2 separate regions of the Homo sapiens genome follow, and region 2 is linked to region 1. The links come from fine-mapping of genetic effects on gene expression. A gene starts in region 1. The other region holds a variant in brackets. All regions are shown on one strand. Distances are from middle to middle. Region 1 holds the start of CCDC3 (coiled-coil domain containing 3). Region 2 overlaps CCDC3 (coiled-coil domain containing 3).

What was found. PIP is the estimated chance that this variant, and not a neighbour inherited with it, causes the effect.
Region 2: its variant is fine-mapped to the expression of CCDC3 in lung (GTEx, PIP above 0.99).

Annotation. Positions count from the first base shown.
Region 1 is chr10:12,999,940-13,004,331 of GRCh38, forward strand. It overlaps CCDC3 (coiled-coil domain containing 3), which reads right to left and starts at 1,774. Exons shown (of 3, transcript NM_031455.4): 1 at 1,258-1,774. The coding sequence starts at 1,631. RefSeq lists enhancers at 903-1,403, 1,404-1,904.
Region 2 is chr10:12,908,067-12,912,458 of GRCh38, forward strand. The region is part of intron 2 of CCDC3 (coiled-coil domain containing 3); the gene reads right to left. It overlaps LOC105376418 (a long non-coding RNA gene), which reads left to right. Exons shown (of 3, transcript XR_001747367.3): 2 at 283-337. Among named protein-coding and RNA genes, the nearest start is that of CCDC3, 91 kb to the right of the region's middle. The variant A/C (reference allele first, on the strand shown) is at 2,064.

The DNA of each region.
Region 1 (4,392 bases):
ATATAAAAACTTAATCTAGCTGAACCACTCAAGCCAACACAAAGCAAGACGTGTTTTTTAAACTTAGATATTCTGGCTTCAATATGGAAAACATGTGTTGCCATGCACTTACAAACACCACTTTGTAGAACTGTTTTCTTTCTCAGAGAAATGCGAGCTAAAAGTGAATCTGCAGACCCACGTCAGCCTCATTCCAAATATCCTCAGTGCTACTTCCCAGACTGGGAAAACGAACTACAACCGATCACCCCAACAGTGGATTAATTTACTATCTTGATAGATAGGTTAGATTCCATTTTGATGTTTTTCTCAGTTGTTTTATATCACTCTCCAAATTCCAACTGAAGCTAACCAAAGAATTTAGAGTTCTACCTGGCACTCTCTATTCAAATTTCAGAAGAATTCAGTAGTCAATGAGAATTGACTGAATTCTTAGGCAGATGCATTCCATCTTGACCACAGGCCAAGTTCTGAAGTTCATGGAACTTCAGAAGATTCCAGTGGTCTATAATCAAAGAGGACCTCCTGGCCTGGTTCACCTCTCCACTCCTCAAAGCATTGCTACCCAGGATTTTACCAGCAGCAGAACCCCAAGCCCTAGTAAACCTTTGCTATTTCAAAGAACCTGGCAGCTGATATGAGACAGTGAAGCAATCCCGGGCTACATTCCACACCATTCACATCTTGGCATTTGAGCAAATGAGGAAGAGGAGAGAGTGGACAGCTGGTCAACTTCTAACCTGCACCAGGTGCTTTGCATGAGTTACGTTCCTCACTCAACCAGCCCTGTCTCTCACTTTACACAGGTGAGGCTATGGAAGTTCTTGAGAAGGTGTCAAGAAATGCGCTCAGAATCACGGTTAGGAAGGGCAGAGCCAAAATGCCAGCCACAGACTGATTTCAAAGATTGTTTTTCTCACCGTCCCAATCTACTCCCACTGAGGCCAGTTTAAAAACCCAAGTCAAAGGGACTGTTGGAGGGCGCTTTGAGCTTCTGTCTGCAATGCTCTTCTGTGTACAAGGCACAGAAACCTTCCCTGTCTTTTAAACCGCCTTAACCAGGGGTAGTCAGGATGTCTGTAGAGACGTCAGACGGAGCAAGAAAGATCCAAGAAGGCAAGGGGTAGGCGCCCCAGGGGCATTCTCACTTGACACCGACAGGCTGCCCGGGGAGTTACCGGCCTGGCTCTAGGTAACGGCGACCTCGGGAGGTGGCGCAGAGAGAGAGAGAGGTGGCGGCGGCGCCGCCGGGCTCACCTGAGGAAGAAGAAATAGGAGTAGTCCTGGACCACGGTGTGGGAGTGGCACGAGAAGTAGCCCAGGCCGGTGAGGTTGAGCCTGGAGCCGGCGGGCACCTCCAGCATGCTGCCCCACGCCTGGTCGCACAGCATCTCGACCTCGGCCGAGTAGAAGAGGCCCCCCTGGCCGGCGTGGTACTGCCAGGGCAGGTGGTTGTAGAGGCCGGGCGCCTCGGGGTGCAGCGCCAGCACCCTGGCGTACACGATGGTCTCGGCCAGCTCGGCGCGGCAGCCCTCGCTCAGGGGCCTCCACTCGGAGGGCAGCTGGCAGGCGCGCGCGGGCGCTGGGGGACCCGCCAGGCAGAGCGCGGCGAGCAGCAGCTGGCGCAGCATGCCGGGCCCTCCCGGGGCGCACGGGGCGGCGGCGGGGAGCCCGGGGAGCCCGCCGGCCCGGGAAGGGCAGCCCTGGGCGCTCGGCTGCTCGGGCCGCTCCCGGGAGCTGAGCGCACCGCTGTCTCCGCCACGGGGCTCGGCATGCCCGGCCCTGGCGCGCCACGCTTTAAAAGGGTCCCGGGGACTGGACGCGCCGGGCGCCCGCCTCCCGCCCTGCCCCCTGCGGCTGGGGCGTGGGCGGGGGAGGGGCGGGGAGTCGGGCGGGTCCCGGCGCCGGCTGGGGCGGGGACCAGGGACTCGGAGAACGCGGGGACGCCGGGACCCAGCCCTGAATTGGGGACAGTGGCCCAGCAATCTCCTGGCGCCCCACGATGGACGTGGTCCGAGCTTGCCAGGCGTAAAGCCTGTTTGCAAACGCAAGGCATTCATTAAAGAATGACTCTTAATTTGCACGATTACTGCCTAAGTTTTTACATTTTCTCTACATTTCAGAGTAAAAATACATAGAAACCAAATCTGACTTTATATTCCCAGAGATTAGGAAATTCAGTGTGGGCTGAGATCTCGTGCTCTCTCAGATTTGCTAGTTATTTAATGAAGATCTTAGAAAAGCTTTGATAAAAGATTCCAAAAAGCAATCATTTGGCCCTGATTTTCTTGGTTTCCATAATCCCTGATTCCATTTTCTAAACACTGTACACCTGAGAAATACATTCAGAAGTAAATCCCAAACAGCTTTTCACATCAGTGAGTGAATTTGAGGATACTGACTCCACAGTTCCATCTTTATCTCTAAAGGCAACAGGTTTTTTGTTTTGTTTTTTGTTTTTTTCTTGAGACAAGGTCTATATCTGTCACCCAGGCTGGAGTACAGTGGCTCCATCAGGGCTCACTGCAGCCTCGACCTCCCCTGGGCTCAGGTGATCCTCCCAGGTCAGTCTCCCAAGTAGCTGGGAATACAAGCACACTGCCACCCCGGATAATTTTTTGTTTTTAGTAGAGACAGGCTATGTTGCTCAGGCTGGTCTCAAACTCCTGGGCTCAATCGATCCTCCCACCTCAGCCTCCCAAAGTGCTGAACTTTCAGGCGTGAGCCCCCACATCCACCCTGAATATTTAAATTATGCAATTTCATAATGCTATTAGTCTCCCAGGGCTGCCATAATAAAATACTCTAGTCTGGTGGCTTAAATAACAGACCTTACTTTCTCAGAGTTTTGGAGGCAGGAAGTCCAAGATTAAAGTGCTAGGGTTGGTTACTGGTGAGGCCTCTCTTCCTGGCTTACAGACGGCCACCTTCTCACTGTGTCCTCACGTGGCCTTCTCTCTGTGTGTGATGGAGAAAGAGTGAGCCCTGGTCTCTTCCTCTTCTAACAAGGTCACTAGTCCTATGGGGTTATCACCCCACCCTTATGTCCTCATTTAATTACCTGCCTGAAGACCCTATTTCCAAATACAGTCACATTAGGGAGTTAGCACTTCAACATATGAATTTGGAGGTGGGAGGGGAGACATAATTCAGTCTATATGAGCTATTTAGCAGGTGTTCTGCAGGTTTGCTAGAGAAAGAGAGCAGGGATCCCAAATGGTTTATATTCCTGGCAGGCAGACTCACAGCACACACTGCCAAGTTATAATAAGAATTGCTAAACCTTAGTCATTGTTGACCATGGGCCAATCACTGTTGTAAGGACTGTACATATGTCATCTTAATAAATTCTCCAAACAATATTCTGAAGTAGATATAACTATTATCCTCATTTTACAGATAACAGGCACAGAGAAGTTAATTGACACCAAAGATCACAAAGCTACAAGTTGACCAAGCTAGGATTCAGCTCCCAGCAATCAGACTCCAGATCCATGTACTTAACTACAACACTAGAATAGGGCCAAATATAGGAAATGCTCTAAAGACACAGGTCGGCCCTTTAACCAGGATATACACAGAGCAAATTAAGAGAAAACCTTAGCAGAGTCACCAATGATGGCTCAAGGAGTGTGCAACTGACCTAACATTAATTTTGTATGACCCAGAATCCCTGCTCTATTTTAGTCCTATACTGTAACTCATCAGATAAGATAGTAAGAAAGTTTTTCTTACTAACTGCATCTTCAAGTGTCTTGAAGGCCTGGAAAAGATTTGTCTACCCCAAAAGACTGTAAGGCCCTCTCTTTTCTTTCCACATAGGTGAGCAAATAAATAAAAATCAGCAAACATGGCTGTTTTTTCTCTTGTTGTATAAACTTGACAGAATCAAAACTCTTCCAATACTTCCCACAGTGTATTTTGCAGAAGTGAGCACCTGCAAGAAATCGTCCTCATGGATTCAGCAGACACATCAGTCATGCTTTTCTCCCCTGTAAGATCTGGCAGAGTGCCTCACTGATTGGGTTTCTCTTCCTGATTGAGCCATTGCAGTGTACCGTAGTGAGCAGTTCCTCTTTGGGGACTAAGACTTCCAAACAAGCAGAGCTCAAGGTAGCCAGGAGGGGAAACAAAACTTCTGTGAGTGAATTATTGGGTTTAATAGTGACATGAGCCACTTCCATCTCTTGATTCCGAGACCTATATGTCCTGGCTGTGGGGTGGATAGTACCGTATATGTATGTTCTGTTTCAAAGCACACACAGTAAGTACACTTTAAGATGGACTCCATCATTTCAGTGTGGTGACTCCCAACTGACACTATAATTAAGTCTTCACTAAACTGTTACATCCTTCAAAATTTGTCCAGTTGCTTCCAGGTGATGGGACATG
Region 2 (4,392 bases), 92 kb before region 1:
GGTGAATTGCCTGCCATCAGAGGAAAGGGGAGTTTATTAGCTAAGTTCTACTACAGAGATCATAAAGCCACGTCTTCAGATAAATCTACTACAAAGGTTTCCCAAAATGGAGTCTCCAGGACACTCGTCTCATTAGATGTTTACGTGGGGACCAAAAGGGTGGTTCTGGTTAAAAAAGTTTCAGAAATGCTGCATATTATGGCTTCCTCTGTGATGTAACACTTAGTATCAGCTGTGCACATTGGTCCTGCATTAAACCTCTCTAACTTTGTTTTACCCCAGATCTCATCGGTCTCTGGTGGAGATCTCCAACATGCAGCAAGAATAGACTACAAGAGTGAGTGTCAAGGCTGCTCAGTTACGAGCGGTCTCCTGTGTTTCTCCCAGGGAGTTTTGCAAACATTTTATCTAGTCTGTGATACAAAGAAGCCTGGGAAACACTAGGTCATGGAATACTGATTTCAACTCTAAATCCTTTTTCTAGAACTACCAAGGGGTAGAAGGGTGCTGAAATCACAGATTCTTGGCTAAGAACTGTGATTTTTCTTTTTTTTTTTTTTTGAGACAGAGTTTCCCTCTGTTGCCTATGCTGGAGTGCAGAGGTGTGATCTCGGCTCCCAGGTTCAAGCAATTCTCCTGCCTCAGCCTCCCAAGTAGCTGGAACTACAAGTGCATGCCACCATGCCCGGCTACTTTTTGTATTTTTAGCAGAGACAGGGTTTCACTGTGTTGGCCAGGCTGGTTTCAAACTCCTGACCTCGTGGTCCATCCGCCTTGGCCTCCCAAAGTGCTTGGGTTTACAGGTGTGGACCACGGCGCCTGGCCAGAACTGTGATTTCTTAATGCTGACCACTGTCCATGGTGAGTGCAGAGAAGGTGTCCAGGTGTAGTGGGAAGGAAGATGTTCTACTTTTATTTTCAGGATCCCAGAAAATCCACATCACAGTGGATGGGGCTCTGGTCTAGATGCAAGGCTCCATCTTCCTGGTATCCTTGGACACTCATGGTCCTGTGAGTTACAGCATCTGAAAGACATCTTCCAACCTTGGATGCCTCTGCTTGTTTAGTCAAAGCCTCCTTGGGCACCTCAGTCCTTAGCCAGTCACGGCCAGTTAATTCTCTCCCTTGAAAACAGCAGGAGGGCTATAAGGGCACTACAGCCTGGCTGATGCAGGCATTCCCTTGGGAAGGAAGAGTGACATTCATGGCCACTGACCATCGGCCCTCAGATGTGTGTATGCTCAGCCTCCGTGGCATCCCAGGCTGCAGGGGAGGAAGGGCAAAAGGACCTGATGATGTTATCTTCTCCCCACCGTGCCCAGCAGTTGACAGGTGGCTGCCAGTGGGGCACCCGGGGGCCATGCTTACTCCTGCCCTGCCCATGGAGTGTGGGTGTGCCAACCCGGGCTGAGTGAGGTGCACTGTGTCCCCCATCAGCTCTGTAAGCTCCATGTCTTGGGTCATTGCTGTTGCCCAAGGGAAGAACAGGTCATTGGCCCAGTCAAAGCTTACCCCTTGCTCTGTGGACCCCTGTGCTTAGTGCCGGAAGGGCTCTGAAGTCAGGCTCTCCCTTCCGGTGTCAGGGCAAAGCAATGAGGCTGTGGAGAGTGGAAGGCTGAACCGTGGACTAACGGTGCAGGGTACCAGGTCTCCCAAGGAGGGGGATCCTAGACAGGCACTGACCCAAAGCCAAAGCTGTCCTGCTCCCTCCCCACTGGTGCTATCCACCTGACCCATCTCTAATCTGATGCTGGTTTCCATGGGGTACTTTTCAGGGTCTAGGGTATTGGGTAATTAGGGGCCAGTCTCCAGCTCTTCAACTGAAAAAGGCAGTGAAAGGCCAGGCTCCACCTTCCTCCCAAGGGCTGGGGTGTGTGCCTGTATCCTCAGTACTGGCTGAAAACCCCAAGGGCTCCTGGCCATCCGCCCTCCCGGGGAATGCGATGGGAATTTATGAGCTGTGATCATGTTCATGTTTACTTCTCAGAGACTGATGACTTGTCCACACAGCCACATCCAGGTCCTGCTTCAGCTAAGAGTCTGTTTATTTGGGAGAATTTATC[A/C]AACCCAGACACAGGCTTTTTTCTGCTACTGAACCAAGACAGGTGGCCCTGGAGTTGAGATAGCCCTAGAGCTGACTCTCCTTGGATTGGAAAGAGCTGTGGGTGCAATTTAGCAAGACCTTGCTTCAAATGTGGTTGTGCCGCTTGCTGGCTACGTAGCTGTTTTCCTTTTTAAGGCAGAGATACTGATAATGAGAAAAAGCATGGTGTATTTGGTGTGCCTTAAAGCCATTCAATGTCGAATGCAGTTGCTGCTACATATTGCCAGACTCAGTCCATAACCATATGTCCCCAAATAAATTCTCAGTTAATATTTTATTTGGTAAAAATATTATTGGAAAACCTATAAACAACAGATGACAAGCACAATGATACGTGTTTCTGCCAATTCAAGGATTGTCCTTCCTGGCTTGGTATCTGGCACAAGTCCTTGCAAACTTGCAAGTTTCAATAACTAGTCAGAGCAAAAAAAAAAAAAAAAATTTTTTTTTTTTTTTTGACACAGAGTCTTGCTCTGTTGCCCAGGCTAGAATATAGTGGCGTGATCTTGGCTCACTGCAACCTCCACCTACCGAGTTCAAGCGATTCTCCTGCCTCAGCCTCCTGAGTAGCTGGGACTACAGGCACCCTAATTTTTGTATTTTTAGTAGAGGCAGGGTTTCACCATGTTGGCCAAGCTGGTCTCAAACTCCTGACCTCCAATGATCCACCCACCTTGGCCTCCCAAAGTGCTGGGATTATGGGTGTGAGCCACAGAGCCCGGCCAAGGGCAAAATTTATATGTGGAAGGCAGTATAATTACAGAATCCTCCCCAGTGCATAGTTGCGGCCAGCCCCTGTGAAATGAATATTATCTGTGAGAATTTTAAATATGTCTGAATTACTGTTCCATTCTATAAACGACCACAGTTATTCTTAGCGACCTCTTCAACAGTTTGCTGTTCCATCTTTCTGGAAGGCCATTCCATGACTCTGCAAGGCAGGTTCATTCTCATCCTGGTTCCTGTGTCATCTCTGCAGATGTGTTCCCTTGTCACCCCATAAGTCACCTCTCCTAATGAGGCTGTTGCATCACCTGCTTCTCTTCAGTGCCTTATAACATTGTTGGATTTCCTTATTAATGGCTAATTTGTTCTTTCTTCCACTAGACTAAAAAACGGGGACTCTATCTCTGGTTTTTACTGCCATAGCCCTAGTGCCTAATACTGTGCCTGACACACAGTAAGTCCTCAACAGAGTCACTGCTGAATGAAATAACACATTCTAAAGCTAATATACGCTAATGTTTTTTTGAAAATTATAAACTAATGAGAAATGGGAAAAAGTCACCTATAATCTCACCACTCAAAGACAACTTGCATTTCTATTTTAGTGGCATGATTTCTTAAACCTGGTTATAAACACTGTATTTACTTTAACATTTTAAAAATATTTAAATTGACAAAATTTATATTGAACATGTACAACGTGATCTGAAATATGTGTACACTGACATGGCTAATTAACGATGTATCACCTCACATACCATTTTTTTGTAGTGAGAACACTTAAAATCTATTTTTAACAATGTTCAAACATACATTGTATTGTTATTAACTGTAGCCACCATGATGTCCATTAGATCTCCTGAAGTTATTCCTTGTAACTGAAATATTGTACCCTTTGAACAGCATCTTCCAATACCCCTTCCAAGTCTCTGGTAACTGCCATTCTACTTTTTGGTTCTTTTAGCTCATTTTTTTTAGATTCTACATTTAAATATTAATAAGATCATGCAGTACTGGTGCCTGGCTTATTTCACTTAATATCCTCCAGTTTCATCCATTTTGTCACAAATGATGGTATATCCTTTTTTAAGGGTGCATAGTATTCCACTGAGTATATACACATCATGTTCTTTATCGATTCATTCATTGACAGACACTTTAGTTTGATTCCCTATCTCGACTATTGTAAGTAATGCTTCAGTGAACATGGGAGTGTAGATATCTCTTCGACATACTGACTTTGGATGTATACCCAGTAGTGGGATTGCTGGATCATACAGTAGCTCTGTTCTTAATTTTTTGAGAAAACTCCATACAGTTTTCCATAATTACTAATTTACATTCCCACCAAGTGCACAAGGGTTCCCTTTACTCCACATCCTCACCAACACTTATCTTTTGTCTTTTTGGTAATAGCCCTTCTAACGGGTGTGAGATGATATCTCATATTCATTTTAATTTGCGTGTCCCTGATTAGTGATGTTGAACATTTCTAAATATACCTGTTGACCATTTGTATGTCGTCTTTCTAGAGGTCTATTTAGGTCCTTTGCCCATTTTTT